Homo sapiens: one gene and its partners. The protein of the gene in region 1 interacts with the protein of each later gene in a biochemical or structural test. Each region holds a gene or a part of one and is shown in the gene's direction. Other genes may lie near its edges. The genes, in order: TFRC, PINX1, SH3BP4, RAB8A and ALB.

What was found.
Region 2: the proteins of TFRC (region 1) and PINX1 interact in a test that uses a peptide from one of them, tested with the Homo sapiens proteins (one study listed by BioGRID).
Region 3: the proteins of TFRC (region 1) and SH3BP4 form a complex in vitro, tested with the Homo sapiens proteins (one study listed by IntAct).
Region 4: the proteins of TFRC (region 1) and RAB8A form a complex in vitro, tested with the Homo sapiens proteins (one study listed by BioGRID).
Region 5: the proteins of TFRC (region 1) and ALB form a complex in vitro, tested with the Homo sapiens proteins (one study listed by IntAct).

Annotation. Positions count from the first base shown.
Region 1 is NC_000003.12:196,063,772-196,069,826, reverse strand, and holds part of TFRC (transferrin receptor protein 1), read left to right. Parts: intron 1-258; coding exon 259-372; intron 373-1,696; coding exon 1,697-1,795; intron 1,796-2,169; coding exon 2,170-2,309; intron 2,310-4,226; coding exon 4,227-4,384; intron 4,385-5,398; coding exon 5,399-5,518; intron 5,519-6,055. UniProt on the Homo sapiens protein: Cellular uptake of iron occurs via receptor-mediated endocytosis of ligand-occupied transferrin receptor into specialized endosomes. Endosomal acidification leads to iron release.
Region 2 is NC_000008.11:10,815,876-10,819,375, reverse strand, and holds part of PINX1 (PIN2/TERF1-interacting telomerase inhibitor 1), read left to right. Parts: intron 1-3,500. UniProt on the Homo sapiens protein: Microtubule-binding protein essential for faithful chromosome segregation. Mediates TRF1 and TERT accumulation in nucleolus and enhances TRF1 binding to telomeres. Inhibits telomerase activity. May inhibit cell proliferation and act as tumor suppressor.
Region 3 is NC_000002.12:235,041,546-235,047,600, forward strand, and holds part of SH3BP4 (SH3 domain-binding protein 4), read left to right. Parts: coding exon 1-1,702; intron 1,703-6,055. UniProt on the Homo sapiens protein: May function in transferrin receptor internalization at the plasma membrane through a cargo-specific control of clathrin-mediated endocytosis.
Region 4 is NC_000019.10:16,125,389-16,131,443, forward strand, and holds part of RAB8A (ras-related protein Rab-8A), read left to right. Parts: exon of another isoform or gene 1-81; coding exon 82-159; exon of another isoform or gene 160-1,599; intron 1,600-2,048; coding exon 2,049-2,138; intron 2,139-2,637; coding exon 2,638-2,703; intron 2,704-4,165; coding exon 4,166-4,216; intron 4,217-6,055. UniProt on the Homo sapiens protein: The small GTPases Rab are key regulators of intracellular membrane trafficking, from the formation of transport vesicles to their fusion with membranes.
Region 5 is NC_000004.12:73,410,744-73,416,798, forward strand, and holds part of ALB (albumin preproprotein), read left to right. Parts: intron 1-1,252; coding exon 1,253-1,382; intron 1,383-2,676; coding exon 2,677-2,891; intron 2,892-4,291; coding exon 4,292-4,424; intron 4,425-5,512; coding exon 5,513-5,610; intron 5,611-6,055. UniProt on the Homo sapiens protein: Binds water, Ca(2+), Na(+), K(+), fatty acids, hormones, bilirubin and drugs. Its main function is the regulation of the colloidal osmotic pressure of blood. Major zinc transporter in plasma, typically binds about 80% of all plasma zinc.

The DNA of each region.
Region 1 (6,055 bases):
AATGCCCTTCAGATGAAAGGCAGCATGGGATAAAAGCATGAAAGACATAGGAGGCCAAAAATCTTGATTTTATTCCAATAGCTCTGACCTAAAAGTTGTAAAGTTTTTTAGAACTCATGTCTTTTTTAGGCCTTGGCCTCCTTTTATCTCTTACTTGGGTTGCCTGTCTTAGGTTTGATCTATAACACTCTTCTGTCTCAAGATTTTAGAGCTGTTCCGATACCATAATGCTCATTAAATCTAATGTCTTTGTTCTAGGGTAAACTGGTCCATGCTAATTTTGGTACTAAAAAAGATTTTGAGGATTTATACACTCCTGTGAATGGATCTATAGTGATTGTCAGAGCAGGGAAAATCACCTTTGCAGAAAAGGTGAGTATGAGTTATTATAATATTAAATACAGTACTTTTGGTATCTTACTCTTCAGGTAAGTGATATTTCTTGTTAATATTCTTACATTCTGAAAATCAGCAATCTTAAACTCTCATACCAGATAATATAATTTATTAAAATGCTCAACAAATGAAGTAAGTTCCACTTACCTAATCAGAAGTGCTTAAGTGAAAGCTATTTCTCTGTATAACTCAGTTTTACGCATATACAGAATTCAGCTAAAAGCATGTTTTATAAAAAGGAAAATTAATAGCCAAACATACACAAGGAACTAGAGTGGAACATATCAAAAGACAGTGGTGATTTCTGCATTTTTAAAAAAAGTGGCAGGGCTCACACCTGTAATCCCAACACTTTAGGAGGCTGAGGTGGGAGGACTGCTTGAGCCCTGGAGGTTGTGAGATGTGACTCGTGCCACTCCAGCCTGAGTGACAGTGAGACTCAAAAAAGTGGTTGTCTTAGATGGGTTTTTGTTATTTTTCTTTTCTTTTTTTTTTTTTTTTTTGAGACGGAGTCTCTTGTCACCCTGGCTGGAGTGCAGTGGCGTGATCTCAGCTCACTGCAACCTCCGCCTCCCAGGTTCAAGTGATGCTCCTGCCTCAGCCTTCTGAGTAGCTGGGATTACAGGTGCCCACCACCACCATGCCTGGCTAATTTTTGCATTTTTAGTAGAGACAGGGTTTCACGACGTTGGCCTGGCTGGTCTTGAACTCCTGACGTCAGGTGATCCACCTGCCTTGGCCTCCCAGATTGCTGGGATTACAGGTGTGAGCCACCACTCCTGGCCTTTGTTATTCTTTTTTTTTTTTTTTTTTTTTTTTTGAGAGGGAGTTTTGCTCTTTTGTCCAGGCTGGAGTGCAGTGGCGCAATTTTGGCTCACTGCAACCTCTGCCTTATGGTTTCAAGCGATTCTCCTGCCTCAGCTTCCCAAATAGCTGGGAATACAGGCGCCAGCCACTGCGCCCAGTTAATTTTTGTATTTTTAGTAGAGACAGGGTTTCACCATGTTGGCCAGGCTGGTCTCGAACTCCTGAGCTTGTGATCCCCCTGCCTCAGCCTTGCAAGGTGTTGGGATTACAGGCGTGAGCCACCACTCCTGGCCCGTTACTCTTATTTTGCAAACAAGTGAGTTAATTTTTCAGGAAGCAATTAATAAATTACCAGATAAACAATTTGAAATATTTGGAAGTATTATAAGTTTAGTCCTCTGTAACCATTTGGCCTTTAGCATAATGTCCAGGATGTATTCTCATTTCGTATGATCAGATCTTCATTTTCTGAGCTTTATATGTTTTCTTTTAGGTTGCAAATGCTGAAAGCTTAAATGCAATTGGTGTGTTGATATACATGGACCAGACTAAATTTCCCATTGTTAACGCAGAACTTTCATTCTTTGGACATGTGAGTTATTTCTTGAGTAAATCACCGTTTTGAGTTCCTTGAGTTGTTCTTGGATTCCTGTATTAGCAGAAATAGCACTGTGTCTTCCTTAACTGCTCTTTTTTCTGGGAGGGCGTTAGCAGTAAGCAAGAAGATAGATTACATTGACTTTGAGGCTTTATTATTTGTTGCTAAAAGTACTTTGTCAATAGTGCCTTGAATTTGAGAATTTCCATATGCCATGAAAACAGGAGTCACATTGTAGAGCCACTCAGATTTTTGAGGCTTCAAGTTGGTAAACTAAGGTTGGGCTGCAGCCTTATACCAAACCTGAATCTTACAGAGAAGTTTTGAGGAAGTATGTGATGGAGTGAATTGCTCTTTTGTTTTCCTAGGCTCATCTGGGGACAGGTGACCCTTACACACCTGGATTCCCTTCCTTCAATCACACTCAGTTTCCACCATCTCGGTCATCAGGATTGCCTAATATACCTGTCCAGACAATCTCCAGAGCTGCTGCAGAAAAGCTGTTTGGGTAAGTTTTTATTTGAAAGCGGTCTTGCATAGTGAGGTTTTATGATTAGGGAAGAACGGTAATATGTTGATTAAAATGTTAAACATGATGATAATTTTCCACATTTGGGAATTTGGAGGATGGTTAGCTGTTACCTTGGTACAGATATAAATGAATTTTTCTCTATAAAGAGATCTTAATAATGGACTTTGGACTTATAAACACAGGAGAATAAGGAGACTTATAAACCCAGTGAATTCCTTGTGCAAGATTCCTGGCATAGCTTCTGCTCAAGTACTTCTGTGCTGAAGCACGATGCCTATAGCAGCCCATTCAGTTAGTAGAGAGAATCTGTTAGAATTCATATTGGGATAAAATCCTATTCCCCGAAACATCCATTTGTCTGGATTTTTCTTCTAAGCAATACGGTATGATTCCAGTTACCTTGTCTATAGATTGAGAAGCCTTGCTTCTTATGATGGTTTCCAGAGAAACCATTTATGGTTGTGGCTCGCTCCTCTGGATATCCTCCCTGTAACGTTAGTGTCTCTCTTTAAAAACAGAGCCCAGTTCCATTAGAGTACGTAGCATTAATTTTGATTTGGATGTGGACATATTTATCATTTCCTGTTATTACAGGATGGAGATCTAGTTTCAGGCCTTTATGAAAGCATTTATCTCCTGTATGACATAGGTTCTCTGATCCTGTTTCTTTAACATAATTGGATAGTGAAAATATATTCTACTTGATAGTCTCAAATGAAGAACATCTGTATATAAGGAGTATATGAAATACCATGACTGTTGATCATGCTGAGAGGCCTTTAGCATAGGGGAGTGTGTAACATACCATGACTATTGATAACGCTAAGAGGCATTTAGCATAGGTGATTTTTTTGACTCATTCTACCTACCACCTACAAATCGTAACCAACCTGTGAAGCCAGCGTCCCATCTTATCCTTATGTAGTAGGGGAGTAATAATGTTTCAACCTATATTTATGTAAGTAAGCCCCCTTAGGAGCAGCTATTATTTGGGTAACACAGAGGAATTAGATAGGGGAAGCACAAGATTTTTTTTTTATTTTGACAGTCTCACTCTGTTGCCCAGGCAGGAGTGCAGTGGCATGATCCTGGCTCACTGCAACCTCCACCTCCTGGGTTCAAGGAATTCTGCCTCGGCCTTCCAAAGTGCTGGGATTACAGGCGTGAGCCACCGCACCCAGCTGAGGAATATTTTTTATAACTGAGCTAAGAATGTGTACTATCCTTGTTAGTGGTGACAGTTGGGAAACATAAAAGTGTATTAATATTCTTTTATATATTAGAAGAACTTCATTTTGAGTCCATCTTGGTATGTATTCCAAATATAAACTACGTAAGTATGTCTGGCAGAAAGGCGCATAGTTAGAGAAGTGTTTTAAAATATTGCTTAATTAATGGTTTCCAATTGGCTGCCTGCAGATCAAAGTAAGACGCAAATGGTTCACCACTAGAGAGTAAGTTTTTTTTTGTTTTTATTTTGTTTTGTTTTGTTTTGTTTTTTTTTGAGACAGGACTTGTGCTCTGTTGCCCAGGCTGGAGTGCAGTGGCGTGATCTCGGCTCACTGCAGCCTCCGCCTCCCAGGTTCAAGCGATTCTCCTCCTCATCCTCCTTAGTAGCTGGGATTACAGGCGCATGCCACCATGCCCAGTTAATTTTTGTATTTTTAGTAGAGTCGGGGTTTCACCATGTCGGTCAGGCTGGTCTTGAACTCCTGACCTTGTGATCCACCTGCCTCAGCCTCCCAAAGTGCTGGGATTACAGGGGTGAGCCACTTCGCCGGGCTGAGAGTAAGTTTTGTTTATATGTCCTCTTAATCTGTAACTTCACTGGACAGGAGTAAACCCTGGGCAAGGAACAATAACTCAGAACTTACGCCTGCTTTCTGATTCTAGGAATATGGAAGGAGACTGTCCCTCTGACTGGAAAACAGACTCTACATGTAGGATGGTAACCTCAGAAAGCAAGAATGTGAAGCTCACTGTGAGCAATGTGCTGAAAGAGATAAAAATTCTTAACATCTTTGGAGTTATTAAAGGCTTTGTAGAACCAGGTAAAGACCGCCCCCCCCCCCCCCCGCCCCGCTTTTTTTTTGTTTTCTTTTCTGTTCCTAAGGATGTGGCTAGAGAAGGAGCGAGTGTAGGAATGCTGGCTTGGCTTGGTTTTATGAAGTGCTCAATCTTGTCTGTCCTAAAGTTAATTGTTTATGTGTTAGTTTCTTTTTTTTTTTTTTGAGAAAGAGTTTCACTCTTGTTGCCCAGGCTGGAGTGCAGTGGTGTGATCTCGGCTCACTGCAATTTCCGCCTCCCAGGTTCAAGCCATTCTCCTGCCTCAGCCTCCCCAGTAGCTGGGATTACAGGCATGCGCCACCACGCCTGGCTAATTTTGTATTTTTAGTAGAGACAGGGTTTCTCCATGTTGGTCAGGCTCCATGAGGTCAGAGCTCCTGACCTCAGGTGATCTGCCTCCCTCAGCCTCCCAAAGTGCTGGGATTACAGGCATGAGCCACCGCGCCCAGCCTATGTGTCAGTTTTATTGGGAGGTAATAAGGCCCTAGGAAATTCTTGTTAAAAATTGACCATTATGACTAGAAAATCTATTCTAAGTTATTGACTAGACCAGTGATAAGCAAATTTCTTAAGGGGGCAGATAATAAACCTTTTGCCAGGCTATACAGTCTCTCTTTTAGCTGTTCAACTCTGTGGGAGCAAGAAAACAGGCACAGACTGTGCGTAGTGAATGGGCATGCGGGCTGTAGTTTGCCAGTCCCTGGAGTTAACTTTAAATGCAATCAAACAGCCAACACTTACTAAGAAATAAGTCCTTGGACTTAAGTAGTCAGTAAATTTAATTAGTAGTGTAGGAAAAAAGTAGCTCTACTAGTAAGGTAAAATTAATATTCTCATGTGAATTTTTAATTCCCAGAGTTTTTAGTCAGATTTGAAGTAAGGCTCTTTTATCCTTAATACATATACTGTGCTTTTACCTTTCTACTGATGTGCTAATTCTAGAAAAGTTTAGAAGCTGATTATATAAGTTCTTTCTTCCTCTTTTTTCTTTTTTAAAGATCACTATGTTGTAGTTGGGGCCCAGAGAGATGCATGGGGCCCTGGAGCTGCAAAATCCGGTGTAGGCACAGCTCTCCTATTGAAACTTGCCCAGATGTTCTCAGATATGGTCTTAAAAGGTAGAGTACAAATTTTGATTCTTTTGAATATTGGTGCACTGCATACAGTTCTAGATGTTATACTGTGCTTTGCTCACTTTGCCTGCATTCCTGTGGTTCTCATGCTAGACTCTAGTTCTTAAATACAAGGCAGATTGTCTTTTGTTGTAGCTGCCTTTTCCTTTGAAACAGCTTTCCATAAAGTGTCTTAACTGTGCTAGAAATCACCAGTTTCTTTGAGACAGTGGAGTTACTGAGCCCTAGTGCTTAGTGTGGTGGATCCAGAGTGATAAGGTGGATCATAGTCCCTAAGCAATCTATTTGAAAGCAGTAGCATACCTCTCTACTCATGTACTGAGGCCTAACAGCTATTGAAATTTTGTTCTGTTTATTCATTTATTCATTTTTTGAGACAGAGTTTCACTCTGTTGCCCAGGCTGGAGTGCAGTGGTGTGATCTCACTTAGCTCACTGCAACCTCTGCCTCCCGACTTCAAGCAATTCTCCTGCCTCAGCCTCCTGAGTAGCTGGGATTACAGGCACCCACAACCACACCCGG
Region 2 (3,500 bases), on another chromosome or scaffold:
AGCCAGGGCCCTTGGTGACCATAGAACAAAAAAGAAGACTTGGTTTATTGATTCCTGGCATTTTTCCAGACTGACAGAAATCTTTATTTCTAGGGTGGTGGTTTGTTTCTTAATAGTAATAATTTTTAGGGAGTCCAGAATTACCAGTGGTTAGAAGTCTCATTAGATGATTCCCTGTGCAGATTGGGACTGAATTCCTGGGTCTTTTAGCCCCTGTCTGCCCCTGCACCCTCAGCAGATGGAAGCAGCAGGCTGGGAAAGGATACCTGGCTTTGGTGCCTGCGCGGACTATGCTGAGTCACGGGATAGGCAGTGGTCACTAGGGAGGAGCCGCTCTGACATCCGGCCGTGCCGGCTGCTCCTTCACAAGGGGCTGCTGGAAAGAGCCATGGTCAGACAGGCTGGCTTCTGGTTGTACCTCTGCCCTCAGTGCTCACCGTGAGACCTGGACTACGCCACTCTTCCTTGTTCACCAAGGACATGGCCTCTGGCTTATCCCAGCCTCCTCTCCAACCCCTCTTCCTTGACTCTCTCAGTCGTCTCCGTGTCCTCAGGAAGAACTAGAATTCCAGTCCCGCGCCTCTTGAACTCCATCTCCTTTGCTCTGCCCAACAGCTGCCCCCACCCCACGATCACACCCTGAGCCTTTGTATCAACTCCACGTCCCTCCCATACCTTGAGATAACCCCCATCTCCCCAGCCCCGTGGGGCTCACGTGCCTTCTGTACTGGCGTTTCCACATCCCTGCACGTTGATCCTCTCTTCTGCCTGCTGCTCACCCACCACCCCCAGCCTTTGCCCTCCCGGACACCCTCTATGAAAATGTACAGTTGAACAGATCAGGGAGGGAAATGTTACTTGTGGGCTTTTGTAGAACTTTAAGAGAATTTATGTGTTTGGTGCAGAAAGCTCTTAGTTGTAAGAGATCAGAGGTTTCTGATCCTCTGGCAGATTTCTGTTTGAGAATTTATTGGGTGTTGGGTGCCTTGAGGTTTTCAACACTGTGTGGTGTTACTTGACTCTTTGGTAGCTAAGTCATGTTAAAGTGAGACATCCACCTGTGTTTGAGGAGCTTCAAAAGCAGTTCCCTAATGCTAGCCCCAGGAAAATCTCTTTTGGTCCAGTGTGTGTAGAGATGATCAACCTTGATGCAACATCGTGTTTTGTGTGAGATTTCCATTAGTCACATCTCTCTCTCTCTTCCAGTTCAGTGTTTTCTTCCAGTGATAAATTTAGGTCCTACCTGTTGGTGAGGTGGTCTTCTACCAGGCCCTGCTCTCCGTCTGTAGCCATAGTTCTCAACAAGGTCGTCCTGGCATTGCCTAATGAGCTTTAAACAAATGCTAATGCCAGGGTTCTGCCCAAGACCGATTAAATTAAATCTTCGGTCAGGGTCCAGGTATCTATATTACAAAAGGAGAAAAATTTAAAAAAAATTTTTTTTTAATTCCTCCCCAATTGTTGCAGCAGTTATTCTGACGTTCAGTAAGGAGCGAGGGTTGAGAACACGGGGATAGCCTGCCATGCAGCTGTACTGAGAGCTTCTGGCTTCCGGGTCGTGAGTAACCCTGAGGACAGAGCTCCTCAAGTCCTGCCGTGTGTACAGGTCTTCCCTGTCAAACTGCAGATTCCAACTCAGGAAGCCTGGGCGGGGGCTGAGAGCCTGTACATCCCCATCCGAGGAGCCCCCAGGTGATACTGCTGCTGACCTGTGTGCCACACTGAGGAGGTCGCGTCTAGGCAGTATTTTCCTTTTGACATGCCTGCATGTGTGCAGAAAACAGAATCTATTTAAATGTAATCACATTTAAGACAAACAGAGTATCTTTCTATAAAGCAAAATGACCTCTACATTTATCTTTGACATCCTTGTGGATGTTCATATGTTAAGTTTGCTTTTATTGAGGTATACCGGTACCTTCCTTGAGTAGACTATTGCTAAGAAACCTTAACCTTGTTAGTTACAACAGCCCTTATAGTCAAAGGCAGGAGGACTTTGATCAGATTTGTTTGAAAATACAACCTCTTTCGGCTCCCATCCTCAGTTGGCGGGAATGTTGTATGTTGTTGCTTCGCTTGACTCTCATAGCTCCGTCGGTCTGGATTTATATTTGGCATTGCAGAGGCCAAGGTGTTGCTGGAGGTCACCTCCCTCCAGAGTCCTGGAAACCGTGGTAGTGCGGGCCACTAAGGTAGCAGTAGCTCTGTGGGTGCTCTAGTTAGGTGCCGATGCTGATCTGTCTTCAGCATCCAGAGTTCCAGAACGTTGGCGTTAACCATGTTCTTGGCTTGGGTAACAGCATCACCCTTGCAATAAGGGAAGCCTACTGATTTTAATTTCTACAGCTCCTGACTGCCATCGTAGAATTCCAATTTTATTAAGCACCTGTGTGCCAAACCCTGTGCTGGATTTTTCTCATTTCATCCTCACAGCAATCCCGTCATGTAAATATCAGTATCTCCTCTGTAGCAGTGAGGAAACTGAGGCACAGAGAGAATTGTTAGAATGCTCCAAAATGGCACACGTGGGCTTTTAAATCTGTGTCCGTCCAATTCCAAAATCAGCCTTTCTCCGATAATACAGCAGTCCTGCCGAAGTTAATGAACTCTTTCTCATTTAACAAAAAATCTACATTGAAGGGGGTTAGTTAGGCCTTAGCAGCTTCTGTTGAGCTTCACCAGAGACACCAGTGGTTGATGCTGTATCGTAACTTTGTGGGAAAATGATTGGCTGTTGCTATTTTGTGGAAAATAATGGTTTAAATTTCAAAACTTCTTTACCTTACCTGTAGTCAGAGGTGAGCTGTTAGGGGTTGACAAGCATGTGACCAGGTGTCCAGGCCAGCCTGAAGAACGACTTGACTTCCTTATTGGCTGGAGGCTGAATTAAGAAAGAGCTTGAGCATCTGGAGCATAGATGTTGTGTTGCTTGTGTATTTTTTCGTCTCTCTATTGAACTGGATGATCTGAATGTATTTATATCTAAGAAACATCTGCAGCCCTTGATTAATAGTCATGAGGGTTTTTTCTTTAACTTTTTATAGATGAACAGGATGTTGCAAAGATAGTAAAGGGGTTCTGTGTACCCTTCATCTGGTTTTCCCCAGTGGTTACATCTTACGTAACTACAGTACAGCATGATGAAACCAGGAAATTGGCATTGGTACCATCTGCTCATACAGCTCTGTGCCCCTTTATCACATTTGTGGATTGTGTAACCATTATTATCTCAGTGAAGATCCTGAACTATTTCATTACCACCAAGGCCTCCCTTGTGCTAACCCCAATCATAGTTGCATACCCCTCCAACACCGCCCGTGACCCTGACAATCACAGCTGCCGACAGAATCGTCTGATTAGGAGTGGAATATCGTGTGTACAGACCACATGGTCTCTCCGTTTGATGCTGAGGCTGCTCAGATCTGCAGGGGTCACTACCCAGTGCTAAAGGCCGATTGTCGTTTCCATGATCTACTTCCTGCACTTAGCCATGCTCAGTG
Region 3 (6,055 bases), on another chromosome or scaffold:
TCCCACATCGTCGAGTTTCTTCACCGGCTTGAAATCACCTGCCCCCGAGCAATTTCAGAGCCGGGAGGATTTTCGAACTGCCTGGCTAAACCACAGGAAGCTGGCCCGGTCTTGCCACGACCTGGACTTGCTTGGCCAAAGCCCTGGTTGGGGCCAGACCCAAGCCGTGGAGACAAACATCGTGTGCAAGCTGGATAGCTCCGGGGGTGCTGTCCAGCTTCCTGACACCAGCATCAGCATCCACGTGCCCGAGGGCCACGTCGCCCCTGGGGAGACCCAGCAGATCTCCATGAAAGCCCTGCTGGACCCCCCGCTGGAGCTCAACAGTGACAGGTCCTGCAGCATCAGCCCTGTGCTGGAGGTCAAGCTGAGCAACCTGGAGGTGAAAACCTCTATCATCTTGGAGATGAAAGTGTCAGCCGAGATAAAAAATGACCTTTTTAGCAAAAGCACAGTGGGCCTCCAGTGCCTGAGGAGCGACTCGAAGGAAGGGCCATATGTCTCCGTCCCGCTCAACTGCAGCTGTGGGGACACGGTCCAGGCACAGCTGCACAACCTGGAGCCCTGTATGTACGTGGCTGTCGTGGCCCATGGCCCAAGCATCCTCTACCCTTCCACCGTGTGGGACTTCATCAATAAAAAAGTCACAGTGGGTCTCTACGGCCCTAAACACATCCACCCATCCTTCAAGACGGTAGTGACCATTTTTGGGCATGACTGTGCCCCAAAGACGCTCCTGGTCAGCGAGGTCACACGCCAGGCACCCAACCCTGCCCCGGTGGCCCTGCAGCTGTGGGGGAAGCACCAGTTCGTTTTGTCCAGGCCCCAGGATCTCAAGGTCTGTATGTTTTCCAATATGACGAATTACGAGGTCAAAGCCAGCGAGCAGGCCAAAGTGGTGCGAGGATTCCAGCTGAAGCTGGGCAAGGTGAGCCGCCTGATCTTCCCCATCACCTCCCAGAACCCCAACGAGCTCTCTGACTTCACGCTGCGGGTTCAGGTGAAGGACGACCAGGAGGCCATCCTCACCCAGTTTTGTGTCCAGACTCCTCAGCCACCCCCTAAAAGTGCCATCAAGCCTTCCGGGCAAAGGAGGTTTCTCAAGAAGAACGAAGTCGGGAAAATCATCCTGTCCCCGTTTGCCACCACTACAAAGTACCCGACTTTCCAGGACCGCCCGGTGTCCAGCCTCAAGTTTGGTAAGTTGCTCAAGACTGTGGTGCGGCAGAACAAGAACCACTACCTGCTGGAGTACAAGAAGGGCGACGGGATCGCCCTGCTCAGCGAGGAGCGGGTCAGGCTCCGGGGCCAGCTGTGGACCAAGGAGTGGTACATCGGCTACTACCAGGGCAGGGTGGGCCTCGTGCACACCAAGAACGTGCTGGTGGTCGGCAGGGCCCGGCCCAGCCTGTGCTCGGGCCCCGAGCTGAGCACCTCGGTGCTGCTGGAGCAGATCCTGCGGCCCTGCAAATTCCTCACGTACATCTATGCCTCCGTGAGGACCCTGCTCATGGAGAACATCAGCAGCTGGCGCTCCTTCGCTGACGCCCTGGGCTACGTGAACCTGCCGCTCACCTTTTTCTGCCGGGCAGAGCTGGATAGTGAGCCCGAGCGGGTGGCGTCCGTCCTAGAAAAGCTGAAGGAGGACTGTAACAACACTGAGAACAAAGAACGGAAGTCCTTCCAGAAGGAGCTTGTGATGGTGAGTGCTCAGCAGGTGCCTGGGCGTTCAGGGGTGCTGCTCAGCAAAGCCTTTCCGCCTTCCCAGTGCACATGGGCGTGGGCCGTGGTGTCGTAAGTCACCAGGACAGTGTCTGTGGCTGATGTCCCGCTGCCTGAGATAGGTGCGGCTCAGCACAGCCTTTCGCCTTCCCAATATGCGTGGGCGTGGGCCGTGGTGTTGTAAGTCACCAGGACAGTGTCTGTGGCTGATGTCCCGCTGCCTGAGATAGGTGCGGCTCAGCACAGCCTTTCGCCTTCCCAATATGCGTGGGCGTGGGCCGTGGTGTTGTAAGTCACCAGGACAGTGTCTGTGGCTGATGTCCCGCTGCCTGAGATAGGTGCGGCTCAGCACAGCCTTTCGCCTTCCCAATATGCGTGGGCGTGGGCCGTGGTGTTGTAAGTCACCAGGACAGTGTCTGTGGCTGATGTCCCGCTGCCTGAGATAGGTGCGGCTCAGCACAGCCTTTCGCCTTCCCAATATGCGTGGGCGTGGGCCGTGGTGTTGTAAGTCACCAGGACAGTGTCTGTGGCTGATGTCCCGCTGCCTGGGATATACGTGTGGGGCTTGAAGTGTGCTTGAAGTGGAGATGGGGTTTACGGGGGATCCTGGGGGGCCCCAGACAACCCAAGGACCCTGCAAAGAAGAGCATTCCAGTTACTTTTCCCACCGAATCTGTGAGCTCCAAGAGGGTCCCAGAATGGACCAGATGCGGGTGGGGGCAGAAGGCGGCCTGTGCTCTCGCCATTCAGTTTAGATCTCTTGGGAGCAGATGTGGTTCGTTAGATTCCCAACAGGGTCTCTGACTCCAGAGTCCCACGAACCGCTGCCCCAAAGCCTGTGTTCATTGTAATGTGAGTTTTTCTTGCCTTTGCTTCCTTGAAGCTTCTAACATCTCTGTATTGTTTCCACTTCCCCCTCTGTGTTGGTTTGAGTTGGGGCGAGGACAGCATTTGTTTTGCCAGCACAACCGTGAACTGGAATCCAAAGAAATAAAAGGGGGAAGTAAGCATCAGACTGTGGGTTACGCCCTGGCCCACGAGCCAACCGGGGAGCATTTGCTCAACGCTTTCTTAGCACTGCTCCCCGCAGGCAGCCCCACCGTCAGCAGAGCTGGGTCCTGGCGGTTACCTTGGCTAGGCTTAGCCATATCCGTGTCCTGGCATCCCCAGGGGTGTTTGTGGTGGAGAGTCCCTGTGGACTTCTCCCTGTGATAGAACGGAGTCCACCCCTATCCTCCGGAGAGGGGCGCATTGCTGGTGTTCATTCCTGTGGGAAAACCCTGTGACCTTGGCGTGTGCCGCTCTTCCTCGTTCCTCTGAGCCCGCAGGCTTTCTTGCATCCTAGCTTCTGAGAGGCGTGCTTCTTGGTGCCCGGCCTTTCTGCCACCTCCCCGGCTCCCCTGGATTGAGCCCTGTTTGTCTGGGAGAGCCCAGAGTGTCCTGTAGACACAGGTGTGCAGGCAAGGGTCACATGTGGCACATACCCGGCTCGGCTGCCCATGTTGAGCCAGGAGACAGAAGGGACGCAGCCCGGCAGGAGTGGGGCAGGAGTCGGGTGAGACCCTCTCTGGGTGGCCTGCAGTCGTGTGCAGTGCCAGAAGCATGGAGCCACGAGATTGCCCAGGGGAGGGAGATGGAACTGGAAGCGGCCGTCAGGGGGGCCACCTTGGCAACCAGGAAATCACTGCACTTGGGTGGGGAGGAAGCGAACAAACGCAGCAGGGAAGCCTCCGGGCCCCCATGTGGGGTCACCTGCAGGGAGGGGATGGCCTGCGTCCCTCCCATCAGCCATCACCCATGTGTGATTCAGAGCACACCTCCTGGCTCTCCAGAACCTGGTGCCGGGCCGTGGCCTGGTCTCCTCACGGGTGCACCCAGCACAGTGGCAGACAAAGCGCCTCCATCCCGTGAGAGCCTCTGTGCGGGCGGCCCCGAGACCACAGCCGTGGCTGTGCATGCTGTCGTGGAACCTGACAGCATTGCTGAGCCCAGGACACTCACCTCGACGTTGCACCAGAGGTGGAAAAATGACACAACCAGGAGTACCACACCAGCTGTGGAAAATAACCGCCGAGTAGGTGGCTTTTACACTCATTTTCCTGCTTTTTTATCTTTTTCCAAAAGACATAAATGATCAAACTCTCTCAATTCGATTGGTGAGCATCTCTGGGAGGGGATTTTTTGGTGGGCCTCCCTGTCCGCTCCAGGGAGGGGTGTGTCCTCTGTGCCCGAGTCCTTCCGCTACCCAGAAAGGAGGAAGTGAAACTTGCCCTTGGCCAGGTCGGCTCCCTGAGGCAAGGTTAGATTTTGTGGTGATAAAGTGAAACTGGTTTTGCAGTGTCCCCACCCGCCCCCCACACCTGTGTCAGTCATCATCTTGGCCAAACTTATAGAAACCACAGACGGATTTCTCCCAGGTCGTTTATTAGGAGACCCTGAAAACTGGCTGTTCTATTCCGCTTGTCATCACAGGGCTGCCACGATTTCTGCGGCCTCTGCCACCGCTTTACCTGCCCCTCCCAGAGAGTCACAGCCAGGCCACCCCCTGCCTCTCATTTTTAGCATAGCTTTCGGTGTCCTTGTTCTGATGCCTTGGGTTGGAAACAGTGTTTAAATGATGGGGAAAATGTGAGAGTTTGAGACAGTCAGTGTGCAGGGAGATGGGAAGGAAAAAGGAGTCAAATGAGACCTGGGTTGTTCCTCTCTCCACTGCCTTTAGAACGGGGTCAGCCTTTGCCCCTGCCCCACAAAGTCGTGTAAGATCTGGCCCTACCCATCCCAACCCTGGGGGCCACTGTGCTCTGTGCACCCCTGCCCTGAACACACCCAGCTCGCCCGGCCTCCAGCTCCTGCAGATGCTATGCTGTTCCTCTTCCTGGAGCTCCCTTTCCCAGACCTCCTCATCTCCCTCAGCTGCCAGCTCAAATGCCGTCTCTCCAGGACGTCCTTCTCTGCAGCCCCGCGCACTCCATCATCCTCTGTCTCCATGGTGTTTCTTGAATCAGAAGCGGTTTGTTTTGGCCAGGCATGGAGGTTCACACCTGTAATACCAGCACTTTGGGAGGCTGAGACAGGAGAATCGCTTGAGCCCGGGAATTCAAGACCAGCCTGAGCAACATAGTGAGGCTTCATCTCTCCAATTTTTTTTTTTTAAATCAGCCAGGTGTGTTGGTGTGCACCTGTAGTCCCAGCTACTTGGGAGGCTGAGGTGGGAGGATCACTTGAGCCCAGGAGGTCGAGGCTACACTGAGCTATGATCGCAGCACTGCACTCCAGCCTGGACAACAGAGTGAAACCCTGTCTTGAAAATAAAGGAAGAGAAGAAAAGAAACAAGTTTGTTTATGTTCTTGTGCACTTGTTTCTCATTATTACTCTAACTGAACATAGGTCCCATGAGAGGAAGGGCCCCGGCACATAAGAATCACTGAGGTACTAGATGGATAAGTGATTGAATGAATGAATGATGGATGAATGAATGAATGATGAATGAATGAATGAATGAATGCAGGCCTTGGGCTGGGCTAAGAATCCAAGCGGGAGGCATTCTCACGTGGCCATACCATGCTTCTGTTCTGTGGTTCCATTTCCTCTTTCCATTCTTTTTGTGCCTGTTTTTGATAGAGTCCGTGTGTGAGGCATCCCCGTACCTCTGCCTGCCCCTTCCCAGCAGCATGGCTGTGGCTGCACTCAGAGCACCCCTCTGTCCTGGCCACTTCTCTCCCACCAGAGCCTCTGTCCGTGATGGTGTCAGCTGAAGAATGACAAGGTTTGTTCATTTGGAAAGGAGAGCCTCATTCCTCATAAAGGGTTGCAGCCTGTGGGTGGCTATTCTGACAGGTTGGGAAGCAGAGCCTCCTGCCAGAAGCCAAAAACAGACACTTCAAGGGAGGGGCAAAGGCAACAAGAATTTATGGATATTGGTGGCCAAATATACATATTCAATAAGCCGTAGGGGGAGTCATGAGTATTTATGAAAGGAGAAATGTGCACATTCACATTTAAGCCTTGTGCTCCTTCAGGGGTCCCATGTACAAAAAATGGTGGCAGTGGCATGATTCAAGGGTAGGGTTTTCTTTCAGCCCCCTGATGCGTCAGAGGCGAAGCAGGGGACATGAAACCCTCGCTGTGCATCCTCTGTAGACTGGCCAGAAACACTGCGTGGTCGGTGGGCTCCCGTCAGGCAAAGAGGAGGGGCAGCGTCTGGCAGTGGTAGAGGCCTTTGAAAGGGAACCCAGCTTTTTAAGAATCAGAAAAGTCATTCAGCAGCGCCCTTTTGATGCAAGAGACTATTCCCAATTCTCGGGATACTGTCAGCACTCGGCACATGGTCTC
Region 4 (6,055 bases), on another chromosome or scaffold:
CCACTGTTCTCTGGTGCCGCTGAGGCCTCCCTTCCAGAGCCTGCAGCCGATCAGGCACCTGTGTCTTCTCTCCCCGCGCAGGGCATCATGCTGGTCTACGACATCACCAACGAGAAGTCCTTCGACAACATCCGGAACTGGATTCGCAACATTGAGGAGGTGAGGCCCTCCGGCTCCTCCCACTGTCCCTGCTTCAGTCCTTGTCCCAGAGCCCTCTGGTTTACTCATGAGAAGGCCAAGGTGCAGAGACACATACAGGCCACTTGCCCACAGCCTCCTAGTCAGGGACATGGTGGGAGCAGGGACTGAGATGCAAGCAGCCGGCCCCAGGGACCACACACTGGCCTGGCCCCACCCCGGAGCCCCTCGGAGCCCATCCCTCCAGCTAGGCTGTTGGATCTGGCCAGTGTCATGGTTATAAGAGAAAGGATATCCAAGCTTGTGGTCACCATGAGTGTTGGGTGCTTTCTAGAGAAGGAAGGGTCTAGCACAGGTGTGACCCTTGTAGTTGGAGGGTGTGGTGAGCAGGCGTCAGTTGTACTTTGAGCTATATCGGAGCAGGGTGTGACCTGGTACAAACGACCTGTGTTCAGACCTTGAACCATAGAGCAGTGAGAAGTAGGCCAACCCCTCCTCCCCTCCCAAAGCCAGCATCTTCATCTTCTGCTCCCCAAAGAGCTGACCTCACCCCCAAAGCCTTCCTGGCTGCCGGCACCTGCAGCTTTCTATAACTAACCATGTGGGGCTTCAGGTCTGAGGCACAGCCAGAGAACTTTTCCCATCTATAAAACCACAGCAAAAGGGCATATCACTGTCCACCCAGGACTCATGGACCTCCCAGGCCAGGCCGAGAGGCCACCCCATCATTTGTGAGTCATTGCACTGGGCTCACCTCCCCAGTGACCCTGAGAGGGCTGTGCTGCCAAATTTGCCAGTGCAGGGCTGCACCCCAGCTGGGAAAGCTGTCTTCATCCGTGGAGAGGAGGAGAGCCTGGTCTTTGTGAAAGGTCTCTGTTTCTGGCCAGCGGGCAGGAGCCACCTTCTGGTTCATGGGAAGTGAGGCAGGGAGTGGCGCAGTAGGTTCCAGAGACCAAGTCTGAGCTGGTGGAAGAAGACAGCAGTTTCCAGTGTCCCCGTCCTCCAGGAAGCGTGGTCCGCTCCATGGGGACCCAGGGAGACTTGACGAAGGAGCTGCCTTTGGGTATGAGGGCAGAGTTTGGGCAACATCAGACAGGGTGGTGAAGTGCCTGCAGCTGGTGACGGCCTCGAGTTGCGACCACCTCAGGCACGGCCTGTTTCTGGAGCCCAAAAATAGTTGAAATGTCAGGGCCAGGCGAGGTGGCTTATGCCTGTAATCCCAGCAGTTTGGGAGGCTGAGGCGGGCAGATCACCTGAGGTCAGAAGTTTGAGACCAGCCTAGCCAACATGGCGAAACTCTGTCTCTACTAAAAATACAAAAAATTAGCCTGGTATGGTGGCAGATGCCTGTAATCTCAGCTATTCGGGAGGTTGAGGATCGCTTGAACCTGAAGGCAGAGGTTGCAGTGAGCCGAGATCATGCCACTACACTCCAGCCTGGGAGACAGAACGAGACTCCATCTCAAAAAAAAACAAAAAAAAAAGTGTCAAAGCAGAAGGTCCCAGGACAACAGCTGGGGCCTCTTGCAGAGGAGCCAGGGAGGGAAGGAGGAAAGCCAAGGTCGGGGGGTAAATATCTCAGCCTCACTCACCTCCCATAGGCTAGACCCGCCCAGCATCCCAGGTGCGGGGGCTTGATTGATACAGCCATAGAAGCTGCCAGAAAGCATTTCAGAAAATGTGCATTTGCTCAGAGTAGCAGCTAGAACCCTGGCCCCAGCCCTGGCATTGGCTGTGTGACATGGGGCCGGCTGCTTGGCCTCTCTGAGCTTCAGCTTGTCCCTTAGACCAGGCTGTACCTAGCAGTCCTGACCCCACCGCTCTGATTTCTGGGGACAGACTGTGTGTTGGCAGAGGCACCTGGCCTGTGTCATCCGGTCTGATCCCCCGTCTGTCCCCCTCCCTCTCAGCACGCCTCTGCAGACGTCGAAAAGATGATACTCGGGAACAAGTGTGATGTGAATGACAAGAGACAAGTTTCCAAGGAACGGGGAGAAAAGGTGGGCATGGTGGCACAAGGGGCAGAGGGCCTCGGGGTCTTGGGGTTCTTGTGCAGAGGCCTTCCCCTGTCCCTCCTCTGCCCCAGGGGCCTGAGACGAGTTGGTCACCCCAGTGGGGCACGTGCCATGGGATGACAGAAGCACACACCCAGCCGGGGCTTCTTGGGTGCACTCTGCGGGCATCTCATCAAAACCTACCATGGCCCCGCTCCAGACTTTCAAGACCACAGGAGCGGGGAACAGAGCCATAGTTTGATCCCAGCAGGTCCCCGCCACCCTCCCATCTCAGCTGCCATCCCCAGCAACTCCATGCCCTGTGAGGCCCTGTGGAGGGGCATTCACTATAGAATTGAGGGAGTGATCCAGGAAGTCACGCCCACAGCCCCAGCCCTGTTGCTGCTCCCTCTTGGCGCCGGCCCTGCCTTCAGCTCCTGTTTTAGGCAAGCTCAGATGCGCCCGGCGGCTGGTGTGCTCATGCGTGTGCCTCCCTCTCTCACAGCTGGCCCTCGACTATGGAATCAAGTTCATGGAGACCAGCGCGAAGGCCAACATCAATGTGGAAAATGTGAGTCCCGGGCCCTGCTGGGAGACATGGGGCCTGCAGGATCGGCCCCTTCAGGCTAAAGGGGGAGCTGGCGTCCTCCGAGGAGGTCCTGCCAGACGGACCAGCCTCGGGCTCAGGGCTGCCAGTCAGTCCTCTGAGGGACATTTCCTGGGCAGTGCCACGTGCCAAGCACAGGCAGCCCCTGGGAATGTGCCATCAGCAGGGACAGGCACCACAAAGGGCACCTAGGACGCATCTCACGGGCTCTTGGGCAGCCCTGGGGAATAGGCACGGTTTTACAGGTGAGGAAACTAAGGCTCAGAAAGACCCAGCTCTGTGTTTACCCTCTCAGCCACACCACTCACCCTGGAGAGGCCCCTGTCAAAAAAGCCCAGACATAGCAGGGAGCCCTGATGGGACCTGGGCCCATGCCACCCTCCCCTCTCCACGGGGCGACCCCAGCCCTGCGGCCGATCCTGTGATGTTTCCCCATCCTAGTCATGTTTCCAAGGCGGATCTTCCATATCACTCCCGACCTAAAGTCTCTATGCTGACGTGAAGACAAAGGCTAGACTCCTTGCCTGGCGTGGAAGGCCCTCCCTCACCGGCTACAGCTGGTGTTTGCCACCCAGGGCTCAGGCCTTGCCCTCCCCAGGCCACCTGGGCTGCTCCCTTCTCCAATACGTCACTGCATTTCCCTCCTGTGTGCCCCTTTTTCTGCCTGCCAGGTTCCCTTTTCTAGTCAGGGCCTGGCCCTGGGGGCCTCTCCCCAAGAACACCTTCAGTCTCCCCTGGGCCTTCCTCCGCACCCCAAGCCACTCTCCTCTCCAGAACCTCCCACATCATGGGGATGTATGTTGGGATCACGCCTCCCGCCATCTCTGTATGTCCCCTCCTCAAGGCTGTGACAGCAGCTCAACCCTTGGCTGTGCTGGGAGATGAACCTGCTCCCGCTCCCAGCCCTGCCAGGCAAGGACTCCGAGTGAAGCTTGTTTGGCCACAGAGCTGCTTGCCTTTTTCCCTGACCATCAGAAGGGAGGCCAGAGCTGACAGAACCTAGGAGTCAGAGACAAAGAACTGGGCACTCCTAGATCCTTCTGGATTGGTCGGTTAACTGCTGGGTTCCTTTGGACAAGTCACTTGGCCTCTCTGAGCCTCAGTTTCCTCTCTGGCCAACTGAGTGTCGCCCCATCTCACAGGGCTTAGGGGAGGTGGCACATGCGTAAAGTCCCGTCAATGCTAAGGTGCTCTGCGGAAGTGAGAGTTGATGTCAGAGAGTAAGGGTGGGTGGGAGGCAGAGGGAGCCGGGGAAGGATGAGCTGGGGCCGGACAGGCCAGATGAACCCACTGCCAGAGGCGGGCATCAAAGGGCCAAATGGGAGGCCCACGCCTGGGAAGCTGTCTCACCACACCCGCTGTACACGGGCGGCTGAGGACTCAGGGTCCTGCCATCCCAAGGACTCACAATGTGCTTATTCCACAGGCATTTTTCACTCTCGCCAGAGATATCAAAGCAAAAATGGACAAAAAATTGGTGAGTGTGTGTCCTTCCGAGATCCCCGGGTGGATCTCTGGGATCCAGCCATCGTCGTTAGCAGCAGTGATATGACGTGCCCTAGATCCTGCTTTTTAGGGCCCAGCCAGACCCCATGGGACATTGCTGGGAAAGGGGGAAGAGTTTGCAGGTGTGGCTGGGGCATCAGCATCAGGCAGTGCCAGCCTGGGGACGCTGCCCAAGCAGACAAGGCCGTGCCCGGTGAATCCCCAGGCTAGCAGGGAGCACACGGCCTTTTCCATTCCACTCAAGGGCCAGAAAGACAACATGGTGTGCAAGGACAGAGAGCCATGGCTCGGAGAAAAGCTTCCTAGGTCGCTTGGGCAGGGCCAGGGCTGGTGTCTGATAACTGCTGGCTCATCGTCTTGACAAGCATGGCAGATCAAGAACCTGCCCCCGCTCCACCCCAGCCCCAGATGCTACAAGTTGTGACAGCTCTGCAACCTTCATTGTGTCCCAGGGTTCTCTGAGGCCTCCAGGGAAGTCTGCATGAATCCCTACCCATCTACCCTCTCATTCGTTTCTTGCTTTTTTTTTTTTACCACGTTAGCGATTTCCTAGTCCGCTGCGCTCAGTATCAATGGTGCTTTCTTGATGGAATCAAACACTTCCCTGTACTTTGGGGGCATTTAGTGCCTAAACACCGTAGTGACCCTTCCTCCCTCGCCCTGGTTCCAGCAACTGCCCTTTCCCGGCCATGTTACATTGGTTGTCCAATCGAGGAGCACACGGCGCTCTATTTGTGGGTTAAGTCTGGTCACTTGAGAATGCACATAAAATACAAAATGCCGTTCAAGTTTTACATCTGATGTAAGCAAATCTGTTTTGTAATTCTAAGATGCGGTGTGTTGAACAGTGAGGCATGTGATTGATTTAATAGCAGCTCTTTGGCCATTAAATTAAAATGGGAAACAGTTCATGGAAACCAGTGCACTGACCAACAATAATTTGGGATTTTCTTGCAATTTTTTTTCTTCAGTATAATGGTCAAGGTCTGATTCTTTTTTCTTTTAGTTTTCTTATTAGTTAAAAAAGAGATTTTTTTTTTAGAGTCTCACTTTGCCACCTAGGCTGGAGTGCAGTGGCACCATCACAGCTCACTGCAGCCTTCAACTCCTGGGCTCAAGCAATCCTCCCACCTCCGCCTCCCAAGTAGCTGGGGCTATAAGCACACACCACCATGCCTGGCTAATTTTTTTTCTTTTTCTTTTTTTTTGAGAAGGAGTCTCGCTCTGTTGCCCAGGCTAGAGTGCAATGGTGCAATCCCTGCTCACTGCAACCTCTGCCTCCCAGGTTCAAGCGGTTCTTCTGACTCAACCTCCCGAGTACTTGGGATTACAGGCACATGTCACCACGCCCAGCTAATTTTTGTATTTTTAGTAGAGACGAGGCTTCACCATGTTGGTCAGGCTGGTCTTGAACTCCTGACCTCAGGTGATCCACCTGCCTCGGCCTCCCAAAGTGTTGGGATTACAGGTGTGGGCCACCCCGCCTGGCCATTTTTTCTTTTTTAAGAGGCAGGATCTCACTTGTTACCCAGGCTGGACTCAAACTCCTGGGCTCAAGCAGTTCTTCTGCCTCAGCCTCCCAAAGTGCTGGGAAGGGTATGATGGGGTGGGCAGATAAGTGAGAGAGTGGTTGGAAGGGGTGGTATATAGCAGATGGAAAATAGATCTGTTTCTGAAAAACGAATTATCAGTTGTAAGAGAATTGGATGGATGGGTAGAAGATAATGGATGGATGGTTGGTTGAAAGGGAATAAATCGATGGTTGATTTGTTGGAAGGAGATGGTTGGATAGATAGATGATTGGTTTGTT
Region 5 (6,055 bases), on another chromosome or scaffold:
CTTTATTTAATTTTTTAAAGTTATTTTTAATTTTTGTGGATACAGAGTAGGTATACATATTTACGGGGTATATGAGATATTTTGATATAAGTATACAACATATATAATCCCTTTATTTAATTTTATCTTCCCCCCAATGATCTAAAACTATTTGCTTGTCCTTTTATGTCTTATAGTTAAATTCAGTCACCAACTAAGTTGAAGTTACTTCTTATTTTTGCATAGCTCCAGCTCTGATCTTCATCTCATGTTTTTGCCTGAGCCTCTGTTTTCATATTACTTAGTTGGTTCTGGGAGCATACTTTAATAGCCGAGTCAAGAAAAATACTAGCTGCCCCGTCACCCACACTCCTCACCTGCTAGTCAACAGCAAATCAACACAACAGGAAATAAAATGAAAATAATAGACATTATGCATGCTCTCTAGAAACTGTCAATTGAACTGTATTTGCTCATCATTCCTACCATCTACACCACCAAAATCAACCAAATTTATGAAAAAAAACAGCCCCAACATAAAATTATACACAGATAAACAGGCTATGATTGGTTTTGGGAAAGAAGTCACCTTTACCTGATTTAGGCAACTGTGAAATGACTAGAGAATGAAGAAAATTAGACGTTTACATCTTGTCATAGAGTTTGAAGATAGTGCTGGATCTTTCTTTTTATAAGTAAGATCAATAAAAACTCCCTCATTCTGTAGAAGTTATGATTTCTTTTCTAAGAGACCTTTAGAAGTCAGAAAAAATGTGTTTCAATTGAGAAAAAAGATAACTGGAGTTTGTGTAGTACTTCCCAGATTATAAAATGCTTTTGTATGTATTATCTAATTTAATCCTCAAAACTTCTTCAATTTAGCATGTTGTCATGACACTGCAGAGGCTGAAGCTCAGAGAGGCTGAGCCCTCTGCTAACAAGTCCTACTGCTAACAAGTGATAAAGCCAGAGCTGGAAGTCACATCTGGACTCCAAACCTGATGCTTCTCAGCCTGTTGCCCCTTTTAGAGTTCCTTTTTAATTTCTGCTTTTATGACTTGCTAGATTTCTACCTACCACACACACTCTTAAATGGATAATTCTGCCCTAAGGATAAGTGATTACCATTTGGTTCAGAACTAGAACTAATGAATTTTAAAAATTATTTCTGTATGTCCATTTTGAATTTTCTTATGAGAAATAGTATTTGCCTAGTGTTTTCATATAAAATATCGCATGATAATACCATTTTGATTGGCGATTTTCTTTTTAGGGCAGTAGCTCGCCTGAGCCAGAGATTTCCCAAAGCTGAGTTTGCAGAAGTTTCCAAGTTAGTGACAGATCTTACCAAAGTCCACACGGAATGCTGCCATGGAGATCTGCTTGAATGTGCTGATGACAGGGTAAAGAGTCGTCGATATGCTTTTTGGTAGCTTGCATGCTCAAGTTGGTAGAATGGATGCGTTTGGTATCATTGGTGATAGCTGACAGTGGGTTGAGATTGTCTTCTGTGCTTTCGTCTGTCCTATCTTCAATCTTTCCCTGCCTATGGTGGTGGTACCTTTCTGTTTTTAACCTGGCTATAAATTACCAGATAAACCCATTCACTGATTTGTAACTCCTTTCAGTCATGCTCTAACTGTAAATGAAGGCTTAAACTGAAGTAGAACAGTTACAAGGTTTTACTTGGCAGAACATCTTGCAAGGTAGATGTCTAAGAAGATTTTTTTTTCTTTTTTTAAGACAGAGTTTCGCTCTTGTTTCCCAGGCTGGGGTGCAATGGTGTGATCTTGGCTCAGCGCAACCTCTGCCTCCTGGGTTCAAGTGATTCTCATGCCTCAGCCTCCCAAGTAGCTGGGATTACAGGCATGCGCCACCACACCTGGCTAATTTTGTATTTTTAGTAGAGGCGGGGTTTCACCATATTGTCCAGACTGGTCTCGAACTCCTGACCTCAGGTGATCCACCCGCCTTGGCCTCCCAAAGTGCTGGGATTACAGGCATGAGCCACCTTGCCCAGCCTAAGAAGATTTTTTGAGGGAGGTAGGTGGACTTGGAGAAGGTCACTACTTGAAGAGATTTTTGGAAATGATGTATTTTTCTTCTCTATATTCCTTCCCTTAATTAACTCTGTTTGTTAGATGTGCAAATATTTGGAATGATATCTCTTTTCTCAAAACTTATAATATTTTCTTTCTCCCTTTCTTCAAGATTAAACTTATGGGCAAATACTAGAATCCTAATCTCTCATGGCACTTTCTGGAAAATTTAAGGCGGTTATTTTATATATGTAAGCAGGGCCTATGACTATGATCTTGACTCATTTTTCAAAAATCTTCTATATTTTATTTAGTTATTTGGTTTCAAAAGGCCTGCACTTAATTTTGGGGGATTATTTGGAAAAACAGCATTGAGTTTTAATGAAAAAAACTTAAATGCCCTAACAGTAGAAACATAAAATTAATAAATAACTGAGCTGAGCACCTGCTACTGATTAGTCTATTTTAATTAAGTGGGAATGTTTTTGTAGTCCTATCTACATCTCCAGGTTTAGGAGCAAACAGAGTATGTTCATAGAAGGAATATGTGTATGGTCTTAGAATACAATGAATATGTTCTGCCAACTTAATAAAGGTCTGAGGAGAAAGTGTAGCAATGTCAATTCGTGTTGAACAATTTCCACCAACTTACTTATAGGCGGACCTTGCCAAGTATATCTGTGAAAATCAAGATTCGATCTCCAGTAAACTGAAGGAATGCTGTGAAAAACCTCTGTTGGAAAAATCCCACTGCATTGCCGAAGTGGAAAATGATGAGATGCCTGCTGACTTGCCTTCATTAGCTGCTGATTTTGTTGAAAGTAAGGATGTTTGCAAAAACTATGCTGAGGCAAAGGATGTCTTCCTGGGCATGTAAGTAGATAAGAAATTATTCTTTTATAGCTTTGGCATGACCTCACAACTTAGGAGGATAGCCTAGGCTTTTCTGTGGAGTTGCTACAATTTCCCTGCTGCCCAGAATGTTTCTTCATCCTTCCCTTTCCCAGGCTTTAACAATTTTTGAAATAGTTAATTAGTTGAATACATTGTCATAAAATAATACATGTTCATGGCAAAGCTCAACATTCCTTACTCCTTAGGGGTATTTCTGAAAATACGTCTAGAAACATTTTGTGTATATATAAATTATGTATACTTCAGTCATTCATTCCAAGTGTATTTCTTGAACATCTATAATATATGTGTGTGACTATGTATTGCCTGTCTATCTAACTAATCTAATCTAATCTAGTCTATCTATCTAATCTATGCAATGATAGCAAAGAAGTATAAAAAGAAATATAGAGTCTGACACCAGGTGCTTTATATTTGGTGAAAAGACCAGAAGTTCAGTATAATGGCAATATGGTAGGCAACTCAATTACAAAATAAATGTTTACATATTGTCAGAAGTTGTGGTGATAAACTGCATTTTTGTTGTTGGATTATGATAATGCACTAAATAATATTTCCTAAAATTATGTACCCTACAAGATTTCACTCATACAGAGAAGAAAGAGAATATTTTAAGAACATATCTCTGCCCATCTATTTATCAGAATCCTTTTGAGATGTAGTTTAAATCAAACAAAATGTTAATAAAAATAACAAGTATCATTCATCAAAGACTTCATATGTGCCAAGCAGTGTGTGCTTTGTGTAGATTATGTCATATAGTTCTCATAATCCACCTTCCGAGACAGATACTATTTATTTTTTGAGACAGAGTTTTACTCTTGTTGCCCAGGCTGGAGTGCAATGGTGCCATCTCGGCTCACCACAACCTCCGCCTCCCAGGTTCAAGCGATTCTCCTGCCTCAGCCTCCTGGGATTACAGGCATGCACCACCATGCCTGGCTAATTTTGTATTTTTAGTAGAGATGGGGTTTCACCATGTTGGTCAGACTGGTCTCAAACTCCTGACCTCTGGTGATATGCCTGCCTCAGCCTCCTAAAGTGCTGGGATTACAGGCATGAGCCACTGTGCCCAGCCGACAGATACTATTATTATTTCCATTCTACCGAGAAGGAGACTAAGGCTCTGATCATTTAAATAAGTTGCCTAAGGTGATGCAGTGATATAAGTAGCAGAGCTAGGAATTGAGCCTTGGTAACTTTAACTCTGGACCCCAAGTCCTTAGCTACTAAGCTTTACTGCATGGGGTTTAGTCAAATTAAGACTTTTGGAATATGAGTTACTTTTGAGATTAGCTTTGTGATATTTTTTGTGCTCATTTGTCCAACAAAGTCTATTTTATTTTCATCTTAATTAGGTTTTTGTATGAATATGCAAGAAGGCATCCTGATTACTCTGTCGTGCTGCTGCTGAGACTTGCCAAGACATATGAAACCACTCTAGAGAAGTGCTGTGCCGCTGCAGATCCTCATGAATGCTATGCCAAAGTGGTAGGTTTATTGTTGGAAAAAAATGTAGTTCTTTGACTGATGATTCCAATAATGAGAAAGAAAAATAATGCAAGAATGTAAAATGATATACAGTGCAATTTAGATCTTTTCTTGAGATGGTTTCAATTCTGGAATCTTAAACATGAAAGAAAAAGTAGCCTTAGAATGATTAACAAAATTTAGACTAGTTAGAATAGAAAGATCTGAATAGAGCAATCTCTAAAAAATTTTGATCTTTTTTTCTCTTTTTCACAATCCTGAGAACAAAAAAAAATTAAATTTAAATGTTAATTAGAAGATATTTAACTTAGATGTAAAGTGAGTTAACCTGATTCCAGGATTAATCAAGTACTAGAATTAGTATCTTATGGCAAATTATAGAACCTATCCCTTTAGAATATTTTCAAATCTTTTTGAGGATGTTTAGGAATAGTTTTACAAGAAATTAAGTTAGGAGAGGAAATCTGTTCTGGAGGATTTTTAGGGTTCCCACTAGCATATGTAATGGTTTCTGAACTATTCAGAATCAGAGAAAACTCATTTTTCCTGCTTTCAAGAAGCTACTGTATGCCAGGCACCATGCACAAACAATGACCAACGTAAAATCTCTCATTTTGGAGAGCCTGGAATCTAACTGGAAAGGTGAACTAATAATAATAATATGTACAATCATAGCCATCATTTATTAAACTTTTATTATATGCAAGGCACTGTTTAATTTCATTAGCTTACCTGGTTTACAGAGCAGCTCTATGAGATGAGTGCCATCTTTGCCCCTATTTTAGGGATAAGGATTCTGAAATGTGGAGATGGTAAGTAAAATTGCACAACTGAAGAATGAGTTACATGACTTGGCTCAAATACTGGTCATTGAACTCCAGAGCCTGAATATTCTTAACCACTTACATGATGCAAGCTCACCAAATAAATAGTTCGAATGTATTGTGACAGAGCGGCATTGATATTCATCTATTCATGTGGCTTTGAGTAGGAAGAAGAAAGGATATCATTCTGACCAGAGGGGTGAAAAACAACCTGCATCTGATCCTGAGGCATAATACTATTAACACAATTCTTTTATGTTTCAGTTCGATGAATTTAAACCTCTTGTGGAAGAGCCTCAGAATTTAATCAAACAAAATTGTGAGCTTTTTGAGCAGCTTGGAGAGTACAAATTCCAGAATGCGTAAGTAATTTTTATTGACTGATTTTTTTTATCAATTTGTAATTATTTAAGACTTAATATATGAGCCACCTAGCATAGAACTTTTAAGAATGAAAATACATTGCATATTTCTAATCACTCTTTGTCAAGAAAGATAGGAGAGGAGAGATAAAATAGTTGATGGGGTGGAGAGGTCTATATTTGAATGTAGTCTAAAAATTGTTCTCTTAAGATTGGAAGTATGTAGGCTGGGAGGGTAAATACCAAATCTTGGTATATCAGAACTGAGCATGTCCCTTGAAGGTTAAGAAATAGTTAATGGGCAAATAGAGCATGGCAATATTTTGTAGAGCAGCAAGTAGTAGGCCTTGAATAGATGTCGCTCAAAAAGTAATATGTAAGCTGAACACAAAAATGTAACAAATGAATTTAGATACATATTTGAATATTAAATTCAGGTTGTTTG